Linked DNA regions of Homo sapiens. The protein of the gene in region 1 purifies or fractionates together with the protein of each later gene. This does not show direct contact. Each region holds a gene or a part of one and is shown on either strand. Other genes may lie near its edges.

Region 1 (7,028 bases):
AACCCAAGAGGCGGAGGTTGCAGTGAGCCGAGATCACGCCACTGCACTCCAGCCCAGTGACAGAGCAAGACTCTGTCTTGGAAAAAAAAAAAAAAAAGAAAGAAACCCCATTTGTATTAAAAAAAAAATACAAAAATTAGCCAGGCATGGTGGTGTGTTCTTGTAATCCCAGCTTCTAGGGAGGCTGAGGCAGGAGAATTGCTCACCATATTCTAGGAAGGCTGAGGCAGGAGAATTGCTTGAAACCAGGAGGCAGAGGTTGCAGTGAGCAGAGATGCGCCATTGCATTCCAGCCTGGGCAACAGAGTGAGACTCCATCTCAAAAAAAAAAAAAAAGAAAAAAGAAAAAAAGGGAGTAAAAGAATGGCTACTCCATAGGCAGTGTGTGGTGGCATGGGCTGCTCAATTGATTATGCTAATAGTTACTTCTTGATTATATGCTAAACAAGGGGTGGATTATTCATGAGTTTTCTGGGAAAGGGGTGGGCAATTCCTGGGACTGAGGGTTCCTCCCCTTTTCAGACTGCATAAGGCAACTTTCTGACATTGCCTTGGCATCTGTAAAAGGTCATGGCAATGGTGGGAGTGTCTTTTAGCATGCTAATGCATTATAATTAGCGTATAATAAGCAATGAGGATGACCAGAGGTCACTCTCGTCACCATTTTGGTTTTGGTGGGTTTTGGCACGTTTCTTTAGCACAACCTTTATCAGCAAGGTCTTTGTGACCTCTGTCATACCCTGATCTCCAGTTTTATCCTGTGAGTAAGAATGCCCAACCTCCTGGGAATGCAGCCCAATAGGTCTCAGCCTTACTTTACTCAGCCCCTATTCAAGATGGAGTCATTCTGGTTCAAATGCCTCTGACAGTAAAGGTTAAGAAATCCTTCTTGGCCAGGTGCAGTGGCTCACGCCTGTAATCGCAGCGCTTTGGGAAGCCGAGGTGAGCAGATCACCTGAGGTCAGGAGTTTGAGATCAGGCGGGCTAACATGGTAAAACTCCGTTTCTACTAAAAATACAAAAAATTAGCCGGGTGTGGTGGCATGCACCTGTAATCCCAGCTACTTGGGAGGCTGAGGCAGAAGAATCGCTTGAACCCGGGCGGTGGAGGTTGCAGTGAGCCAAGATTGCGCCATTGCACTCCAGCTTGGGCAACAAGAGTGAAACTCCATCTCAAAAAAATAAATAAATAAAAAAAAAAGGCTGGGCGTGGTGGCTCACACCTGTAATCTCAGCACTTTGGGAGGCTGAGGCGGGTGGATCATGAGGTCAGGAGATCGAGTCCATCCTGGCTAACATGGTGAAACCCTGTCTCTACTAAAAATACAAAAAATTAGCCGGGCGAGGTGGTGGGCGCCTATAGTCCCAGCTACTTGGGAGGCTGAGGCAGGAGAATGTCATGGACCTGGGAGGCGGAGCTTGCAGTGAGCCAAGATTGTGCCACTGCACTCCAGCCTGGGTGACAGAGCGAGACTCCGTCTCAAAAAAAAAAAAAAAAAGGAAAAAGAAATCCTTGCTGGGCAAGGTGGCTCACACTTGTATTCCCAGCACTTTGTGAGGTGAAGGTGGGAGGATCACTTGAGTCCAGTAGTTCAAGACCAGCCCTGGCAACATAGCAAGACCCAGTCTCTACAAAAAATGAGAAAATTAGCCCGGCATGATGGCATGCACCTGTAGTCCCAGCTACTCAGGAGGCTGAGGTGGGAGGATCCCTGGAGCTCAGGAGGTTGAGTCTGCAGTGAGCTATGATCACTCCACTGTACTCTATCCTGGGTAACAGAGGGAGACCCCGTCTCAAAAAAAAAAAAAAAAAAAGATAAAGCAAAAAAGAGAAATCTTTCTTAACCTTTTTGTGCTTCAGAAAATGTTCACTACAAAGAAATACCCATTCTCATGTCACTTAAATGACTCCTGGTTGCCTCCCTTGTTTACTGTGGCAAGGTCAAACACAGTCCTTCTGAATTCCCATTCTTTGCCTCATAAATGATTACAGAGCTGCTTGTCTCCATTGACCAGTTGGAAAAAATGCTTATTAACCAAACTTGGGTTAAGCTTCTTTCCTTTCCCCAGGCTCCTTACTTTAACCTACTCTCAGCTTGAACTAGCATACTGTCTCATGTGTCCGTGTGAAGAGACTACCAAACAGGCTTTGTGTGAGCAACAAGGCTGTTTATTTCACCTGGGTGCAGGTGGGCTGAGTCCAAAAAGAGAGTCAGCAAAGGGTGGTGGGATTATCATTGGTTCTTATAGGTTTTGGGATAGGCGGTGGAGTTAAAAGCAATGTTTTGGGGGTAGGGGGTGGATCTCACAAAGTACATTCTCAAGGGTGGTGAGAATTACAAAGAAACTTCTTAAGGGTGGGGGAGACTATAAAAGAACCTTCTTAAGGGTGGGGGAGATTACAAAGTACATTGATCAGTTAGGGTGGGGCAGAAACAAATCACAATGGTGGAATGTCATCAGTTAAGGCTATTTTCACTTCTGCGGATCTTCAGTTGCTGCAAGCCATCTGGATGTATACGTGCAGGTCACTGGGGATATGATGGCTTAGCTTGGGCTCAGAGACTGACACACACAACCCCTACTGAGAATAGGTTGGCCTCAAGATAAAACATTCTCTAATCTACTATCTGATCAAGCCACCCCTTCATCCCACTTCCCATATTCGGTTGTTTCCAGCCTTGTTTACCTGCCTTTGGGGAGGGTGGGGGGTGGGGGAACCCTCTTTTTCCCTAACCATTGAAACATCTGCGGATGTTTTGGTCAGAGTGATCTCACTATTGCAATAGTCTCCCTCTGCTATTGCACGGTTCCTTCTCTCCCACCTCTCTCACTTCTTGCAGTAATCCTTTCTTTTTTTTTTTTTTTGAGACGGAGTCTCGCTCTGTCGCCCAGGCTGGAGTGCAGTGGTGGGATCTCGGCTCACTGCAAGCTCCGCCTCCCGGGTTCACGCCATTCTCCTGCCTCAGCCTCCCAAGTAGCTGGGACTACAGGCGCCCGCCACCACGCCCGGCTAATTTTTTTGTATTTTTAGTAGAGACGGGGTTTCACCGTTTTAGCCGGGATGGTCTCGATCTCCTGACCTCGTGATCCGCCCGCCTCGGCCTCCCAAAGTGCTGTGATTACAGGCGTGAGCCACCGCGCCGGGCCTGCAGTAATCCTTTCTAATAAGTATCCTTATTAGTCTGGATTTGTTTTCTTATTTGCCAGAATCAAACAAACTTCAGATTACGTTCCTGGCCCAAAAGCCCTTTAACTTTCAGCAAGCCACCTAACTTTTCTTAGATTCTGTTCTTTCATATATAACTTGGGGATATGTTTCAGGACTCTTGTGAGGATTAGAGATGTAAAACCCTGAAAACATGGTGGCTAGTTAATTAATAGCAGTCATCGCTCTTGTTGTTATGAGTCTAGAGTGGTATATCAGAGTTAATTTGTGAAAGGCCTTACAGGCCAGACAGAGAAACTTGTCATAATCACTGCTGTATCTTCAACACCTGTCCAGTGCTTTGCACGCGCAGAGTATCTAACCAAGTATTGAGAGGGAATAACTTTATCTCACTGACAGTGAGGAGCTGTGAGAATGATGGCTGGTTTAGAAAAGGCAGGTTGGTCACTGTCGACGTTCACTGGCCTTTTCCTACTAAAATTCTCATCTCCTGGCTCTCCACACCTGCCACCCTGATGGCCCCTGTGCTGCGTTTGATGCCGCCTCTCCTGGAGAATGACCATGGTGATCATTCCTGTCATCCTCTGAAATCAAAAGAGAGAACGTGGGCACTTTCTTAAAAGCCTGAAGGGAATGTAGACATTCCGACATCTGGTAAGGGAGACGCTCTCCATCGCTTCCCCCGGGGGCGTCACCGCCCCCTGATGCCCCGCCCTCCTCACGACTCAAGTTCCTCCCACTTAGCTCGGTGCTAGGGGCGCATTTCCCCGGCATGCCTCTGCTCCTTTGCGCACGCGCGCCGCTTCCCAGTGGCAAGCGCGGGCAGGACCGCGTTGCGTCATCGGGGCGCGCGCCTCAGAGAGAGCTGTGGTTGCCGGAAGTTGAGCGGCGGTAAGTGAGCCGCGGCGGGCGAGGGTGTAGTGGGGTCTTGCTGGGCCGGTTTTGGAGGCCTGGAGTCAAGGGGCGAGCTCGCCAGGGAGGGCGAGGGTCACAGCAAGTCTCAGGATCCTCCTCTGCCAGTTTCTGGGTGGTCCTTCCTCCTCCAGGGACTCACTGATTCCGGCTGGCGCCCTTCGTCTGTAGCCGCGTCCCCTCAGACTGGTTCAGTCCGGGGTCTTCTGACTTGGAAGCTCGTGCTGATTTCCTAAGTCAGCCCCTCCTGTCCTCTTGGTAGGCAGTGCTCAGAATCTTCAGTGTTGGAACACGGGAGATGGGACATTTGGATTCCCAGCCTGGCTGTGTCTGGATTTGCTGTCTCTGGCACGTTCCTTCCCCATCTAAGCTGCTTTTCCATCTGCAAAATGGGAATGATAATCCGCCATTTGTTTAAGTGAGGAGGTTAAATAAGTTTACTTTCTGAGAAAGAAGATTCTCGATTCCTTGGTTACAGGGTTAGAAACTAATGCACAATAAGAATCAATCCGGTAAGGTAAATATAGGTGTTAGAACATTTGTCAGAAATAGAGTCAAACTTCTAATTTTATAAGTACAGTACTAACGTACATGATGTTGGAGAAGTACAAGCCAAACCGTGTGTGTGTGCACGTGCGTGCAGTTTCCTGATTTTTAAACACTGGCGACTGATGCCATTTTTTAAAAATTGGCAAGTAATTCTGGCGTTTAAAAACATTGGCAACTCAGTTTTTACAAAACCCTGTTCAACTGTAACCAGTCATATCTGTGGCTGTCAGTTTGGGACCTCTGGATCCCAGACTCCCTTTTTCATTGACTACTTAGATTTTTTTCTCTGACACCTCTGCCCACTGGCCAGATTTCTTCAGTGACAGAAAGCTTTCTACTTCTGGTTGCTCCTGTTTGGTCCTCCCCCAGTTCTGACTCTTAGGTTGAGCTGAAAGCAGCTACTCGGTAATCTTAGCTCACTGTTCCTCCTTCAGGCTCTTGGAATCACCCCTGCATTTAATTGCCCTATACATCATTGAAAGCTGCTAGTTTGTCTTCCTCTTCTCACCTTTTCTTCTCTAGGCTAAGCATATTTAATGTATTTGCTCATAGTAAACTTAACAGTGACAGCAAATTTTGTCATGTTTTGTTATATCCCCAGCATATAGAGCAATGCCTAGCATATTATATATGCTCAATAAATATTTGTTGGATGAATGAATAAAACAAATATTTGCCTGTTATGTGCCTGGCATTATTGTGGGCACTGGTGATCTATCAGTAAAATAAGAAGAAAAAGAACCCTGTTTCATGGCACCTTCTAATAATAGTGGTGGTGGTGGCGGTGGCGGCATTGTCAGTAAGGGTTGGTAGGTGTTTCCGATTCTGAAACGTACAGGGTCATGGGATGGACAGTAATTGGGGGGAAGCATAAAAGCTAGCTAGTCAGGGATGGCTTCCCTGAGGAAGTGACCTAACACTTGAATAAAGAAAAGTCCAGTCTTGGAATGGCTCATGTTGCTAAACTGCTTTCCCATCCCCCAACGCTGCTCCAGTCTTGTTAAGCTGCTTGCAGGTGTGTGTCACCTATAGCCCTTTGCTTCTGCTGCTTCGAACATCTCCCCTTCCTCTTCCATTTATCTTGGCCAACTCCTTCCTGCCCTCATGTGACATGATTTTGAAATCCTTTAAGAGCTGAGTACTGGACTTTCCATTACTCAACCACAGGTTCCGTTTTTCGTTCCCAGCCAGCATCTCATTATAGAGAATAAACATTTATTGAGCTTCAGCTGTGTGTCTGGCACTGCGCTGCAAGCTGGGAATACAAAAATGAGTAAGATACACATCCCTGTCCTCAAAGAGTTTACTTTTTTTTTAAGCCAAGGAGATAGCAACGGTATGGCATGAAGCTATTGCGGAGGTTTGGTAGAGGAGGACTTAGGGTACGCATAAGTCAGGCTGACTCATCAGAGAAGGTTTCAGTGAGGAGGTGCTGCTTTAGCCAAGACCTGAAGGACGAACGAGATCTGACAGGTGAAGAGTGGTTCGAAGTGAGATGAGCAAAGGGCTAGAGGTGAGAATGCATGGCCTGCTTGTGGTTCACTGGAGTGCCAGTGTGGAGGTGTAGGATGAGAGGTGACTGGAAAGGTAAGCACTAGCCACATCGTGAAGGGCCCTGTGGACAATAGCATGTTACCCGCACATAGACTTTGGGATCCAAGATAGCTGCGTACCAATATTCCCATTGCCACTGAACTAGTTTTGTGACCCTGGGCAAGTCACTTCTTTCTAAGCTTCAGTTTCCTCATCTCTAAGAAGGGGAAATAAAAACTGTACGAGGTGATATGTTACTCACTTGACACTGGTAGATGATAAATACTCAATAAACAGTAGTCATTAATATTGCCAGGCCCAGAAGTTTGGACTCTAAAATGTGGGGGCGGGGGTGGAGAGCAGGACACTGAAGATTTTAAAACAGATGCGACATCCTCTCATCTGTTTTAAATTACCCAGGCAGCAATGTGGTGATTACACTGGACAGAAAAAGACAAGCAGGGGACCAGTTGGGTATAGTTGCAGTGATCCAGGTGACAGGATGAAGATCTGGATGAAGGCAGTGACAGTGGAGATGGAGAGGAGTGGGAGGAGTTGAGAGATTAAGGAGGTGGAATTTGCTGGACTTGGTAACTGATAGGATGAAACAGAAGAAGGGGACAAGAATCAGGATCCTGATGACGGGAGGGCAGAAATGAATTTGCTGTGTGGAATTGAGCAGTAACAAAATTCTTTGACTAGTGTCTCTAATAGATTAACCCTGACCTCTGATTTTATTTGGAATTCAGTTTGCCTCTGTCGTCCACTTCTACCCATGGAAATGACGTTCGCTAATGTCTTCCTCTCCTCTTTTTTTTTTTTTCTTTTTTTTTGAGATGGAGTCTCACTCTGTCGCCCAGGCTGG
Region 2 (7,805 bases), on another chromosome or scaffold:
TCGATTTTGTGACTTAATAGAATATATGCTGAACTTAACGGTAAGAAGGCACTTTACTTTTTTGAAACACTTGGTAAAATTGCATGTAATGCCTGGTAATGAAGCGATAAGTGATACCTTTACTCTAAAACACACTTTGGAAAAAATAAAATGAATCTTGAATTCCTTCTAAAGGAACTTCAATAAGGTGTGAGTAACTTAACCCTTTTGACACGCATTAACCACAGGGATGACACTGTGTGTAAAATAACCTTGGTGTTAACAACTGCGCAGCAAAGACCAATCTTTATTATGCCGTGGAGTCCAATATGAGAGGCGAAGAAAGGTATGTTTTAAAAAGGTGTTTAGCTCGGCCGGGAACGGTGGCTCACGCCTGTAATCCCAGCACTTTGGGAGGCCGAGGCGGGCCGATCACGAGGTCAGGAGATCCAGAACATCCTGGCCAACATGGTGAAACCCGGTCTCTACTAAAAACACAAAAATTAGCTCGACGTGGTGGCTCGTGCCTGTAATCCCAGCTACTCGGGAGGCTGAGACAGGAGAATCGCTTGAACCAGAGAGTCGGAGGTTGCAGTGAGCCGAGATCGCGCCACGGTACTCCAGCCTGGCGACAGAGCGAGACTCCGTCTCGGAGGAGGGGAGGGAGGTGTTTAGCTCAACTAGACAGCCTTTACAGCAATTCCGCCACCGGTGACAGTGAGAAACTGTCAGCTTGGGGAGGCCGCGCCACGACTGGACCCCGCCCCCGGGAAGCCTCCCCGGAGCCGAGGGCCCCCGGGCCTTCTCCTCGGAGTCGGGAAGTGCCTGCCCCCACGCTAAGTCTCTCCTGGCCACGCTCTGAAAGGCAAAAATGGCAAAAATCCTCCTTCAAGGCACCGCTCCCTCGACGCGCACCGCCACTCCGACTCCCTCAAAACATTGGTCGCAAAGCCCCCCCGCCTGGTCCTCCATGCTCAAGAATAGGGTGGCAAGGCAGGAAAAGACTCACACATCCCAGCCCCCGGCCCCTCAGGGCAGCCTCTGTGTTTCTAACTAAAAGCCTCCTACCAGGGGCAAGACCAAGTTCGGGCGCTTCCCCGCATGGAGAAACGCTGGCCCCACGGCGCCCGGCCCCGACGCGCTGGCCCTTTAAAGGCGCGGGCTTCCTGCGCCCGGGGCCCCTCCCACGCCACCGCCACCGCCACCGCCACCGCCCGCGCCCGCCCCCGCCGAGGGTCACACTTGAACTTTAGCTCGCCCCGCGCGGCCAGGCGCCGGCGCTCCGCAGGCGGTGGCCGCCCCTTCGCACGTGTCGGAGGCACCACCTCGGGCTCGGGACGCCGGGCCCCCGGCACTCGAGGCCACTCCGGAGAAAACCAAAACAAAGCAAAATGCGCACCGCCTCCAGAAACTGCCCGGCAGGCCCTGCACCGTCCCCGGCCGGTCGCGCCCTGCCTGTCCCCTCCACCTGCAGCCCGGTCCCGGGGCAGCGAGGCTCCGGGGCCCCTCGCCGCGCCCTCCCCCGCCGCGCCCGGCGGAAACAGCTCCGCGGCGCGGCCGGAGAGAACCCGCCCTCCCCCCGCGGAGGTCCGGGAGGGAAGGGGCAGCCGAAGCAGTCGGCGCGGGCCGGGGGTTGCCGCTCCCAGCGAACCCCTTTCTCCTTTCACTGGCAAACTTTTCGGCCTCGCTCTGACGTCCACTTCTTGGCGCACTTTCTTTACTTAGTTCCCCAACGAGCCCCTTACCGCGTCCCACGCGAACTCCTGACTGGCGCGCACGCACACCTACTGCCGTCCCCGACCGGACCCGGGCGAGGCCACCGCGACCACCGCTTCTCGCCCGCCCTCCTGGGAACGCGCTGCCCTCCTGCTCCGCACCTTCAGGCCGAGCAAACCTGCACAGCTGCGCCCTCGCCTGACCCACCGCGCCCCCAAGGTCCGGCCGCGCGCCGAGTCCACTCACCTTCCAGCCCGCCGAGCTGTTGCTGTCACCCTTATCCTTGAAGTAGGGCACGCTCTTGACCATCCACTCGTAGATCTGCGACAGCGTGAGCCGCTTCTCCGCCGAGCTCTCGATGGCCTTGGTGATGAGGTCGGCGTAGGACAGGTTGCCCCACGCGTTGCGGCGGGACGAGCTGCTCTTGCGCGGCTGCCCCGCGAGCGGCCCAGCGGCGGCGGGGGGCACCGGCGGGTGCTGCGACAGCGGCCCGGGCGGCGGGGGCTGCGGTGGCGCTGGGTGCAGGCAGCCCGCCTCCGGGCCCTGGAAGTCCCCGCACAGCCCCCCGGTGGCGGCCGCGGCGGCCGCCGCCGCCACCGCCGCCGCCACGGAGCCGGGCGCCTGCGGGAAGTCCTCGCTCTCCTCCAGCAAGCTCAGGTTGCTCATGAAGTCGGCGCTGACAGCGGCAGCCGAGGCCGAGGGCAGGCCCGCCGCGGCGTCGGGGTTGGCAGCCGCGCTGCCCGACGGCGCCGGGCTGGAGGTGGCCGAGTTGGACTGGCTAAACTCCGGCCTGGGCAGCGGCCAGGTGCACGAGCGCGGCCGGGGCAGCGGCTCGAAGTCCGGGTCGATCTCCACCACCTGAGGCGCCTCGGCCATGGTGACCCCCGCCCCTCCCCCAGCCGCAGGAGAGCCAAGAGGGGGAGAACGCAGCACTGGGGGCGGACGGGGAGGGGGCGCGAAGGGACGGTCCGAGATTTGGGGGAACGAAGCCGGTGCGGCGAGCGGACGGAAACTGGGAGGAAGGCGCGGCGGAGTGGAAGCGCGAGCCCAGAACTTAACTTCGCGGGGCCATCCACATCGAGGCTCCTCGGGGTCCGCCGCACGGACTGGACGGCCGGCCAGAGCCGCCGGGCCGGGGCAGAGCCTGCGCCGCGCTCCAGCTGACAGGGCCGCGGACGGAAGGACGGACGGACGCCGCGGGCCGCTTGCTCTCCCCAGCGGCGCGCCCGCTGCGCTGCTGCCTGTTGAATGTGGCGGCTGCGGCAGCGGCTGCTGCGACTACCAGGCCGCCCGACTTACGGGATCTGCCGCCGCCCCCCGCCCGCGGCGGCGCGCGCGCCGGCCCGCCCCTGACCGACAGCCCGCGCGGCCAATGGGCATGCGGCACCGCCGCCCGGGCAGCCAGTGGGCGCCGGGCTGGGTGGGGCCCGGTTTTCCACGGGGAGGCGGCGGTGGGCTGGTGGGGGGTAGTGGGGTGTTTTTCTCTTTCACACACTCACCTCCTTTTTTTTTTTTTGGATCTCTATTATTTTCTGGTAATTCTCGAGTGTTTCTGTGATTCTCTCGCCTTCTCAGTGTTTTGATTGCTAGGAAGCAAACCAGCGTGGAGGCGCCGGCGACACTTTGTTTACTACGGAGCAGCAGAGCCGAGTACTCGGGAAGCCCGGGTGGGAGGAGGCGCTCGCTGCTCCCTGACCTCCGCTGCGGGCCGAGCCCGGCGGGCTGGCAGGGCAGGGGGCCGAGGGCCGGGGGCGCGGGGTGGGCGGGCGGAGGCGGCCGCGAGGAATTCTACTCAATCGCTCCCTCCTGGCTCCACCCACGATGTCTTTGCTGAACGACGTGGGGAATCGGTGGGTTTTGTTTTGGTTTAATGTTTTCTTTCGCTGCGATCTGTCAAGTCCTCCGGCCCCCTCGCGAGCGGCACACGCCCCCCACCCCCGGCGCCGCGGCTCCTGCAGTCGAGTCCGCGCCGAGGGACCCTTCTCCGTGCCCACCGGTCCGCACCCCCGGGCTCAGCCTGTGCCATTCGGTCTAGCCAGAGGCGCGTCACCCAGCCGGCAGCCCCCAGCCGGATTCACTGTATTCTTGACCTTTTTTAAAATGCTAGAAATGAGGAACAGGGGCTCCGGCGCGGGGAGGAGATTATCTGGCCTCCCTGAACACACGAATCCAAAGGCACCCGCGACCGCATGCCCTCCGTGGGAACCTCTTCCCCTGGGCGGGAATCTCCCGCTCCGTCCACTAAGTCCAGGGCCGGCAGCGAAGGGCTCAGGAGCGCAGTTAGAGAGAACCAGGTCATTTTATTACTTATCCCTAATTAAATTTAGCTGTTTGTTACTTCTTTTTTATTTGCAACGGAAGTGATCGGGTGTTAAGTAAAAACGCAAGGGGGGCGGGAGATAGGACCAAAGCCTTGGGGCGCAGCCTGCCCCACCCCCAAATTCCTTGAGGCTACTTGCTGTGTGTGTCAGTCAACCCCCCACCCACACCCCACCTTTCCTCATCTGGGCTGCAGGTCCAGGACATCCTGTCAAGGATCAGTGGGGCCAAAGGTGGGAAGATAATGGCCCTTGTGTCTCAAGCAGAAGAAACAGTTTTCCAGTTTTGTTTTGTTATGCTTTTGCTTTTTTAGGAAGAATATGGAAGGCATTTCCTTTTAGAAAGATGGGACCACTTAGGATGGAAGATGGACAGTAGGGTTTTAAATATCTTGTCCAAAAGGACAGCTTCCAACTCTTGTTTTTTAATCCCTTTCTTTCTTACAAGTAATTCTGCAATGGAAAAAGTGGCATCTAGAGAAAATTAGTCAGTTGGACAAGAGGTTGTTGAAAAAATAAAAGAGAAAAGAGGGGAAAAAAGGAAAAATTAGGCCTCTTACAAAAGTTAAAAAGATTGAGAGAGATTATCTTTCTTCTTTTATATTCTCACTATCGTCTCTCTAGTCCGGGCTCCTGTTTCTTCATAATCTATTTATCACAACAGCTTCTTGCTGATACTAGGCATGGGTGGGGTGGGGAGCGTGAGCCGGATGGATTGGGGACGGGCGGGGACTGGTTCCCACCCTGGTCTTGTGGTCTCTTCACGTTTACTATCAAATTTGGACAGTCTGGGCCTCCTCTGACAGCCGCTAGGGGACCTCAGTAACTCAGATGATGAGCTCAAAGGCAGGCCCCCAAAGTACAGCTGTTGCTTCCCCCCACCTTTCCAATTACACTCTGCAGAAGCAGCCCCCGATCCAGACAGCCGCACCCTAAAAATAGGCGGTGCCCTACTGGATCATTCTTGGCAAAGGAAGCCAGCTTCAAATTTGGCCTTGCCTTCATTTCTATTCCGGTTTTTCAGGGCGTCAGAGAATATTTATTTGGTTAAAGGAGTCTTCCTACAGACTTTCCCCAAATCCTTGAAATCTTTGAGGCTCTCCTGCCCAATTGTTTCTTCAAATGTCATAGTTTACTTTTATTTGGTCTTTCTTTAAAAAAATTGACGAGGCAGGCACAGAGAACCTATAACACCAATGTCCCTGACACATAGGTCCAAAAAATTAAAAATATATATTGAAGGGTTTTTACAGCTAACCACCACACTGTTGTATCTAAATATCAATTTACTGAACCCCAGGATGTTGGTGAATATTTCACTTGTTTCCAGTCTTTAGCTATCATAGACTATTCTGTAAGAAATAACCTTGCAGGGAGGCCGAGGCGGGCGGATCATGAGGTCAGGAGATAGAGACCATCCTGGCTAACACGGTGAAACCCGTCTCTACTAAAAATACAAAAAATTAGCCGGGCGTGGTGGCGGTCGCCTGTAGTCCCAGCTACTCAGGAGGCTGAGGCAGGAGAATGGCGTGAACCCGGGAAGCGGAGCCAAGATCGCCCCACTGCACTCCAGCCTGAGCAACAGAGCGAGACTCCGTCTCAAAAGAAAAAAAAAAAAGAAATAACCTTGCATAACTTTAATTTCATATCTGTACAAGTATATATATAGGAGCAATTTCCAGAAATGGGAGTCACTGGGTCAGCAGGTATACCCATTCGTAGTTTTGAAAGGCACAGCCAAATTGTGCTCCACAAGGGTTATATCAAGCTAAACTGTCTTTTCCATTAGACCCACAGAACGTTAAACTTGAAAGTAAACTCGGAGATCACCTTGGTGACCCCCTTTAACTTAGAAAAAGAGAGGTGCAGAGATGCTGATTTGCCCCAGCGCACATAATAAAAGTGGTGATGCCAGGGCTGTAGCTCTAATTTTTTGCTTTCCCATTAGTAACCTTCTCAAAACACAGATGGAAAATTATAAATATCCTGTAATCCCACTATAGCAATAACCATTATAACTTCGTAGTGTATTTCCTTCCAGTCAACCCGCAGATCTTAGTAATCATAGTTAGGTGAACTCCACTGAACCAAATAAAGGTTTGAATTAAAAGAACAAATAGGCCGGGCACAGTGGCTCATGCCTGTAACTCCAACAGCTTGGGAGGCCGAGGCAGGTGGATCACCTGGGGTCAGGAGTTCCAGACCAGCCTGGCCAACATGGTGAAACCCCATCTCTACTAAAAATACAAAAATTAGCTGGGCGTGGTAGCAGGTGCCTGTAATCCCAGCTACTCAGGAGGCTGAGGCAGAAGAATCCCTTGTACCCCGGAGGTGGAGGTTTCAGTGAGTCGAGATCACACCACTGCTCCAGCCTAGGCGACAGAATGAGACTGTATCTCAAAAAAATTTAAAAATTAAAAAAAAATAAAATAAAATAAAAGATCAAGAAAACAGACATAAAACAATGATAGTGGTAATAAGATAATGAAAGAAGAGATTACAAAAGAAGTTTTTCTGTTTTTTTTTTTTGTTTTTTTTTTAGTCAAAAATGTAAATGTTGCCATCTCTGAAGGGTGACATAGTATTTAGGTCATCCCTGGTTCTGCTTAAGGGAAAAAGTTCTTTTCTCCTTCCTTGTGTTTTGTGGTTGCAGCTTGCTTTGAAGGTATTTTCTACTGATTATCACTTAGTTGCTGCATGTGTCTGAACTGGGAAGAAATAGGGAAGAAAAATGTCTCATGTCAAGTAAGGACAATTAAAATGAAAAAGGAAATTTATCCTTACAAAGTCCATCTCACAAAACTATGTGATGTTCTTTTCTGTGCCTGGTTTTCAGGGTAACTATTGCCTCATCCTTAACAGGAAGACTGAGGGATGGTTCCCTTTGATCAATGCCCAGGCAGAAATTTCTACATTTACCCCTCACCAACACATGATAGATCTCGGGTTTAAATTTAAATTTTTACTTGTCAAAATAGATAATTTAAGTTCCATTTAATGAGTAAGTGAAAAACTTGGATGCTGATTTTTCAGTCAGGGCACTTCACTTCGTATTTCACATTCCCTTTCCCCAACAACTGTCCGTTTCCAAAACTTTGTCTGAATTATTAGGAGGTACTGCTGTCAACCTGAAACAGCCTTTCTTCACTTAGCCCATAGAAAGTAATAATCTGAAAAAAATATATATAGCCTCAGGTCTTTAAACCAATGTCCTGAAGGCTGGCATATTAACTGGTAGCTGTAGTAAGATTAGAAGTAACCATTCGTTTCTCTTAAGGGATAATTTCCTTGGGGTTTTGTCACTAATTCCACAAATATCTACAGAGCACCTCCTACATATATGTCAGGTGCTGTGCATCTTAGAGTCCATTGTTTTGATGCTAAATTCCTTGAGCTCCAAAATGGTTTATTTTCCCTGATACGATATTTGCTATCAGAGTTAAGAACGCTGTTCTTTTCTAATCAGCAATGCATAGTGACAATATTTATTTGGAGGAATTACACAAAAATGTTTTTGATAGGTAAAAGAAATGCTAAGGCTGGAAAAATTGAAATATAGTCACCATTTTGGAGGAAAATAATGATATGAAGTGGAAAAGATTTAAAAATGCACCATCCACAGGCACTGGGAGTATGAGTTCCGACCACTAAGCCTCATGGTTGGGATGATCTTATTACAAATGGACAAAAGACGGAGACTACCTCTGGTTATCTGTCTACTAACCTGTAACAGAAGGGAAGCAGTGAACCACTTCTTTTGTCAATTCTGTTGTGAAGGGCCAGTGTTTGTCA
Region 3 (7,868 bases), about 42 Mb from region 1:
CCCAGTCCTCAAGGTCTTCTCAGAGGTTCCCACTAGGAGGCCGGCTGCAGTGCCCTGGACGACCCTCACACCCAGGACCTCAGTTGCTCCATCCAAGGAATGGGCGAGCTCAGGTCTTCCTGACTTTCCTGGAGAACAAAGAGGGTGAGGAGGCGAAAGGGCCTCCCGGCGCCTGGAGCCAGGTGGCTGCCGGACCCGGGAATAGAGCCGGGTGTTTTATAGCGGGGTTTGCGTCACGCGGCTGGGCGGGCGTCTGCGCCCCCGGCTCGGAAAGGCTTCCCTGAGGCGGGGCGGGGCGGGGCGGGGCGGGAGGGTGGGGCCCGGGGGACTTTGTGCTGGTGCACGGGGGTCGCGCCGACTGGCGTGTACGTGGTTGTGCGGTGGGTATGGAGGTGTGTGCACGGCGCGGGGGACCCTGCTGTGCCTGCAGTCAGTCCTTCCCAGCCTGCCAACCTCGAGCAGCCGCCTTTCAGCTCAGGGCCACCCCCTACACTGTTTCCCATGGGCCAAGCTGGGTTTGGTGAGCTGTCCTCTGAGGATGTGGGGGATGAGGGGCTGAGAGGTGGGAGCGGGGAGCTGAGGCACCCTCAGGCCAGGGAGCGAAAGGAAAGGCAGGTGAGGCTTATAGCCCTCCCTGCCCTGCTAAGCCCCATGAGCCTCCCAGTAGGGACCCCGTAGATTAGAGCTAAATGGGTGCCGGGGATGGGGGCGGTGGAGGAGAGCTGGGAGGTCCCCTGGACTCCGTGCGAGGGGATAGCTCTTGCTGATGACTGTCCCAACACCAGTGCCCCTTCTCCCCACCTACACACATGTTTGGGGGCAGGGGCAGAGGAGCCAGGGAAGGGGACTCAGGCTGGCAGGGGCTGTGCCATGGTCAGTGCAGAGAAGGGACAGTCCAGGGTACACACCCCTGGGAGAGCCACAGGAAAGCCCTGTGTTCTGCACTCCCAGGACACACCTTCCCCTTGTCTACCCCCAAGTATGTCTCAGGTTTCACCCAAACACAAATGTGTTGAGGAAGGAACATGGAGGCAATTAGCCCAGCCTCACCAACTCTCTGCCTGGCAGGTAACACCAACATGGGATGAACTTGAACTCTTCCATCCTCTCAGCCTCAGGAGGTCGATCTTAACCAAACACCACTCCACAGATGAGGAAGCTGAGGCACATTTAAGTTGCAGTGCAGGGCAGAGCCAGGATGCGAACCAGCCCCTGGGCTGGCACTTCCCTGCTGTGCAGCACTACCCACAAGGCCACTGTCCCCCTCAGCCTGTCCTTGCTTGTCCTTAACCTAGTACCTGAGGCTGACACTCCTGTCGATGACAGTCTTGGTGGCCTGAGGCATGGGCATGTCCCAAGTGTCCTTCCTACTACACTGTCCCCAGTGGGAACCTCCCAGGCTCTGCTGCCCCCAGCAATTGCCCAGGTGCACTGTCGCTGTTGACTGTGTCTCCTGCTCCAGAAACACAAGCCCACTCTCTCTTGGCCAGGCCAGTGCTCTGGGTGTGATGGGGATTGCCGTGGCAACCAAAGCTTCAGGGACAAGGATGGTGACACAGAGAGACAGAAACAGAGAGAAGGTGCAAAAAGCAGAAATGCCAGGACAAGGACCAACTCTTGGCAGGGATCAAGTGAGGGACCCCATTTGCCTTCAGCTGTGTGGGCCTCAGGGACAGAGGGAGGCCTTTTCCAGGTTGCTTGGCCGAGTCTTGGACTTCAGGAGTGGAGGAGTCTGGAGGCCTCCCAGGGTTGATGGCCTTTGGAGGAGGCAGAGGTGGCAGGGGTCAAGTTGCTTCTCCTCTGGATAAATCCTCCAGGAGGCCCACAGAAGGAACAGCCCTGGGTGGATGCTGTGGGTGGGAGTCTGGAAGCTGCCTGGCACCACCCTAGCCCATCTCCTTGGCTGCAAACCTGGAGGAGGAGGAAAGTATCACCTCTAGGCAGCTGCTATGAGTCTAGCCCTGCTCAGGGATTTACGCCCCATGTCAGGAGAGGCCATTGAAGCCTCTTTCAAGGCTGACAGCCTGTGACTTGGCACATGACCAGGCTGTAACCCTGGGCAATGTGTCTAGCCTGGCCGAGGCTCTGTATATATCATCTCATTTAACTCTTACCACCTCATTCAACTCCTGACATGAGTCTGTCATCAGCCCTTTTCATAGGTGAGAACTCTGAAGCTGGGAGAGGCATGGTCACCTACTCAGGGTCATACAGTTGGCATGTGACACAGCCAAGGTTTGCTCTCAGGCTTCAGCAGGCCCTTCTTGTTGATGCAAGGCAGATTATGGGGACACAGATACCAGCTCATCTGGACCCTGCCCTGGCCCACCAGTGTGGCACCCAGAAGCAGCTCCAAGATGCAGGGTGGTTCTAGTCAAGCTTGGCCTGGATTCTCTGGACCTCATGCAAACCTATTCTCCCTGGAACCCTTGGACCTAAGGCCTGGAGGGAAGCCCACCTTCATCCCTTCTCTGCCCTCGCCACAGCATAGCTAGCACAGCCTTAGCCCCTCTGACCCTCTCTGAGTACATCGCACTTCCCCTTTCTCTAGAGGAGAAAGATTGGCTGAAGCCAGTGTATGCTTGCAGCCCCTGAGCTCACAAGTCTGCATATCCTGAGGATCAGGAAAGTGCTTCCTGTTGTCTAATGTAAATCTTGTTCCTGTAACACCAGTATATGTCAAAGCAGTGATTCTCAACAAGGGGTAATTTTGCCCTGCAGCAGACATTTGGCAATGTTTGGAGACATTTTTGTCTGTCACAAGTTAAAGCAGGGAGGTACTATTGGCATCCACTAGGCAGAGGCCAGGGATGCTGCTCAACATCCTTACAGTGCACAGGGCAGCCCCCACAGCAAAGAATCATCTGTCCCAAAGGTCAGTGGTGCTGAAATTGAGATCCCTGATGTAAACTATGGGCTTTGGAGCCAGACAGACCTCGGTCTGAATCTGCGTCTGCCACTGACTAGCTGTGTACTCTGGGGCAAGTCGCTTCTCCTTTCTCTGAGCCTCAGTTTGCTCATCACCAAAACTGGCACTAACAGCAGCCCTCACCTCTTGAGAACTGTTCAGACTGCCCACATCCAGCACCCAGCACACAGCCTGGTGCTGGGTAGCCCCTATCAGCGATAGCCATGATTATTCATTTCCTTCTTCCATGGTGAACCACACGGAGTGGGAACAAAGGTCTGGTGGCTGGACCTGGAGCTCCTCAAGGGTCAGTCCTCCCTCTGGCTGCAGTCCCTGGCACAGGGTGGGCCTATTGTTTATGTTGAGGGAGAGACTGGGTTGGCTTACTGTGGACCTGAAGGAGGAGCCAGAAGGAAACCCGATCCCAAGTGGGCAAAGGTCACTTGAGGCTCACCTTGTTTACCCTTTCCTCCAGTCCAACCCCAGGGAAGCCATGGGGCATGATGGGTGGGGTGGGATGGGATCAGGACACAGAACATGCTAATGAATATGGTCCTTCACTCAGGGAAGTGCCGTGCATTACAACTGGGCATCAGGGAGGAGGGACATTTGAATGGACACAACCAGGGCAGGTAGAGGTTTGGGGGTGGGGTGGGAAATGGCATTCAGGCCCAGAGAACAGCATGCTCAAGGCCTGGGTGTGAAGAGAAAGTCTTTCCCAAAGGATAGTCCTTGAACCCACCTGGTCTGGCCTTTTCTCCCCATCCATCTTCCGCAATCTCAACCAGGGTCCTCCCACCTGAACAACGTGGCAGCCCTTCTGTCCCCCATCCAGCCTCTCCTCTGCCCTGCTGTCCCTCTGCCCCATCTATCCCGCAGGAGCCCCCTTGAGCCTGTCATCCTGCCTGGTTGTAATAGCTTTCACCACCTTCTCATTGCTCTGTGAGAAGACCAAAGTCCAATGGCCTGTCTCTGTCACAAGCCCCTTTCTCAGCTCAGGCCACCTCAGGGATTGTCCCCCACTTCCATCCCTTGTGTCTCAGCTGGGAAGAGCTGTCTAGACTTTCTCTATCCCTTCTAGGTGGTTCCCCAGGACCTGGAACCCTCTTTTTTGTCTCCTGGGAAGTGACATTTCTTTGGATGAGTATAAGGCTAATGTCTTGGCTTTCTGAGCTCTGGGGACAGGGGAATGGACTCCCTAGAACCCCAACTGGTCCCTAGACTTTGAGCCTAGGGGACACTCGGTGAATAGATGAATGAGTGAATGAATGAATGAAGGAGTTATGGCTGACAACCAAGTTCCATGTCTGGAAAGGAGGCTCAGGCGCCTGCCAGGAGCAATAGAGAGGTCTCAAAGGTGGGGGCAGGAAAGCAGAAGACTGCCAATCGGGGTAGGGGCAACTGCCAGTCCGAGTAGGGGCAGTTCCCAGAACCGCCTGAGGAGCAGTGCAGCGCCCGACCAGCGAGAACCTCCGACCCTGGAGTCTAACCAGCTCAGTCTTTGGGGCAGAGCCGGGACAGCGGGCTTGGCGGCGGGCACCGCGCCCGGCCGCGTCCGAGCTCCAGCCAACAGGAAGAGCAGGAGTGGGGCCAGGAGAGGCGGGCCAGCTGGCCAGTGGGGAGTCCCGGGCGTGGGTGTGGGGAGCGGGGGAACCCCCGCCGGCCCCTCCCAGGCCCCAGCGGGCGGAGGGAGCCTCCCCACCGGGCCTCAGCGTCCTCCTCTGTAAAATGGGCCCCTTCTGAGGGCTGGCTGCGCGCTAATGGCGGGAGGATGCGAAGAGGGCCAGGCAGGGCAGAGGGACCGGGAGACTCGGTGTCCCGCGCAGGCAGAGGCGGAGGGACGCTGTCCCCGATTGCAGCTGGCGGGGCGAGGCCTGGCAGGGCGAGGCCTGGCGGGGGCGGGGCCTGGCGGGGGCGGGGCCGGCGGCACCTGGGTGAGGTCGCTCGGCCCCGCCCCCTCGCACTTCCGTGTGCCGCGGCGCCGGAGCCCGAGGCGGCTGTAGCCCACATCTCCCGAGCGACCCCCGGCGCCCGCCCGCCGCGCGGAGGCCCGGGCCACACCTCACTGGCCGCTTGGCCCATCCCAGTCAGCGCCGCGCCGAACCCCGTCCGCGCGCGCCGGGGAGCGGCGCCCCCGCCGCTGCCGCCGCGACCCTTGGCGCCTGCCCCTGCAACGGGAGGTAAGTGAGGGCCGGGTCCGGGCGCGGGATCGGGGCTACCCCGAGGGCGCGGCGCCCTTCCTTCCCCCTTCCCGCCCCAGTTCCCGTTTCCGAAACTGAGAAACTGAGCCGCGGTCAGCGAAAGTCCCGCCGCGCCGAGACCTGCCGGTGACTCCGTCCCCCTGTCCGTCTGTGTGTCCCTCCGCTAGACAGTGGGGGCTGAGGTCCTTCTGTCTGCCCGCTCCCGGCCCCTCCACCCGCCCGTGTGTCTCCCGCTCCTCCGAGGGGCCCGTCCGTCCCTCCCGACTCTCTCCCGGGCCCTGTGTCCGTCCGTCTGTCGCCACCCACTCTGTGTTCTCCCCCTGCGCGCCTCTCCGAGACCCGATCCTTCTGTCCCTCGCCACCCGATCCGTCCGTCCCTTGCCCTCCGCGTGCTCCATCGCCCCACCCCCACCCACACCCCTACCCCCGCCCGCCGCCCCCTCGATCCCGTCCTCCCGGAGCCGCGCCCCCGGCCCACGCTCGCCGCCCCCTGCCAGTCCAGCCGCCTCTCCGCTCTACCGCGGGGCCCAGGCCAGGCCGCCCGCCGGGCCTCGCCTCCCGCCCCTGGGTCCCTGGAGGCCCGACCCGCGCGGCGCCTCCTCCTCGCTGTCTCTTCTTTCGGTCTCAAGAGTCTTTCTCGGTCCCTTCATCCGTCTCTGGGCTGGGCGTGGCTCCAGTCTCCACCATCCCCCTTCCCACCCCACCCCTCCGCCCCTCTGAGACCCCTCCCAGGGTGGCCCCTGCCCGATACGGTCTGTACTCGCCCCCAACCCAGATGCCACTCCCGTTGTGGGGGCTCCACCAGATGAGGGGAGGAGGTCGGGGGGGGGGGTCCTCCTGGCTGGTGGTGGAGCGGCAGAAGGAGAGCACCATCGGAACTGCTCCCACTTCCCCAGTTCCCTCTCTCTTGGGGCAGGGGAGAGCCCCACCGAGCCCCGCCTTAAACCTGGTCAGAAGGATCTGCTGTGAGTGGGCGGGGGGTCCCCTTCTCTGACGCCTACCCTGTATGCGTGGAAGCTGTCTCCTTGTGCTAAGTCACTGGTATCTGGGTGTGTGGGTATGTTGTGTGTCTGTGTCAGCTTCTGTGCTGTCTGTCACTGTGGGACTTGCCTGTGCATGTGTGTCCTTTTTCGCATGTGTGACTTGCTTGTGTGTATGTGTGTATGTCTGTTTGTGTCCTGAGGCTCTGTGTGTGTCTTTTGCAACTGTGTGTACCATTCTTGGTGTGTTTGTTGTCACCAGACTCGTGTGTGTGTGTGTGTGTGTGTGTGTCCTTGCCTGCTAGTGTGTGTGTCCCTGTGTGTCTGGAGGTTTCGGTGTTGCACACTGGGTATATCATGGTGACCAACTGGCCATGAGTACGTTAGATCTGTTAATTGTGGAAGCCCCTGGTGTTGGGTGCCTACCCACCAGTCTCATGTGTGAGTGTATCTGTATAAGTGTGTGTATGTGTGTGTACTCACGTGTGGCTCTCCCTCTGCCACTGAGTTTCTGTGACCAGGCCCACCTGGTCACTAAGGGAGGGGACTGATCCCTGGGGTTTCCTCGTTCCTGCTGTGGAGTGAGCTGGGGCTTGGTGAGCAGGCCAGCAGAGGGAGGCTGTATGGTGCATGTGTGATATGTGTGGTTGTGTGTGTGCGTGTGTGTGTGACAGAGAGGTGTGGTGGTGTCTGGGCAGCTGTACCTGGCTGATGGGTGGTGTGAGGGCTATGCGATGGGACAGTGCTGGGGTAAGCCTGGGAGTGTGTGGCCACGGTAGGAGTGTGTGACTGGTGGGACACAGTCTATGAAACTGCCGGTGTATGCTTGGGGAGTGACTGTGATTGTGGGGAACCGAGAGTGCCTGGGCGTGGGTGTTAGCGGCAGGAGGGGGTGTGACAAGGTGTGTGGTGACAGTGCTGGGAGGGAAGGTGAGAGCCCAGTGTGGGGGTGTGTGTGTGAGTGTGTGGGAGACCATGAGGATGTGGGTGTGCACATGGAGAGGGCTAGAGGGCAAGTCTTGGGGTTTGTAGTGTTGTGACCAAGACCTCGGGCTCTGTACCCAAGAATTATTTGGGCTCCAATACTTGCTTGTGCCTGTTAAGAGCAAGAGACCCAAGCTAGGCCTCTCAAGGCTGAGTGTCCTTATCTGCAGAATGGAGAGAGTGAGGACAAAAGTTCCTGTGTTAAAGGTCCTTTAACACAATCTTGGCCCATAGTGAGAACACAGCACATGTGAAGTCTTTTGTTGTCACCACCCCCAGCTATACGGTTCCCATTCTCCTGGGAGCTGGGGCTAAAGAAAGCCCAGACAGTATCCAACCCAATTTCCTGCCTGTCTGTTGCCCCTTCCCATCTCCTTGACCAAGCAGCTTGAGGGAGGGGGGATGCCCAGACAGAGCCCCCAGTACCCAGCCCTGTTCAGCCTGCATGACAGCCCCTCCCTCACCAGACCTTAGTGTCAGTAGTAGCGATGGGGGAGACAGGGGTGGGGGATGATTCAGAGCTGTGACTGCAGGGCGCTGACACCATTTAGCTGGCACAGTTTAGATTAAAATTAGAAATAATTTAAAGTACAGACAAAAAGATAAAGCCAAGGATGCCTCTGCCCCCAGGGAATGGTGATGGGGGTCTCCAGCTGGGGGAGGGGTTCACATCTGGGGAGCAGAATCTTTCTTAGAGGCTTGAGCTGGCCTTCAGAGAAAATGCTTAGGCCTTTCAGCCAGGAGACACAGAGTACCTTGCTACCTTTGCCATTTCTTCCTCCCAGGATATCTCCA

The links.
Region 2: the proteins of ATG7 (region 1) and FOXO1 purify together in Homo sapiens (affinity purification with western blotting; 4 studies listed by BioGRID). This does not show direct contact.
Region 3: the proteins of ATG7 (region 1) and PRKCD purify together in Homo sapiens (affinity purification with western blotting; 2 studies listed by BioGRID). This does not show direct contact.

What each region holds. Positions count from the first base shown.
Region 1 is NC_000003.12:11,268,371-11,275,398, forward strand, and holds the start of ATG7 (ubiquitin-like modifier-activating enzyme ATG7), read left to right. Parts: upstream 1-4,026; 5' UTR 4,027-4,060; exon of another isoform or gene 4,061-4,339; intron 4,340-5,843; exon of another isoform or gene 5,844-7,028. UniProt on the Homo sapiens protein: E1-like activating enzyme involved in the 2 ubiquitin-like systems required for cytoplasm to vacuole transport (Cvt) and autophagy.
Region 2 is NC_000013.11:40,663,642-40,671,446, forward strand, and holds the start of FOXO1 (forkhead box protein O1), read right to left. Parts: upstream 3,001-7,805; 5' UTR 2,572-3,000; coding exon 1,942-2,571; intron 1-1,941. UniProt on the Homo sapiens protein: Transcription factor that is the main target of insulin signaling and regulates metabolic homeostasis in response to oxidative stress.
Region 3 is NC_000003.12:53,156,341-53,164,208, forward strand, and holds the start of PRKCD (protein kinase C delta type), read left to right. Parts: upstream 1-4,868; 5' UTR 4,869-5,088; intron 5,089-5,166; exon of another isoform or gene 5,167-5,235; intron 5,236-6,141; exon of another isoform or gene 6,142-7,868.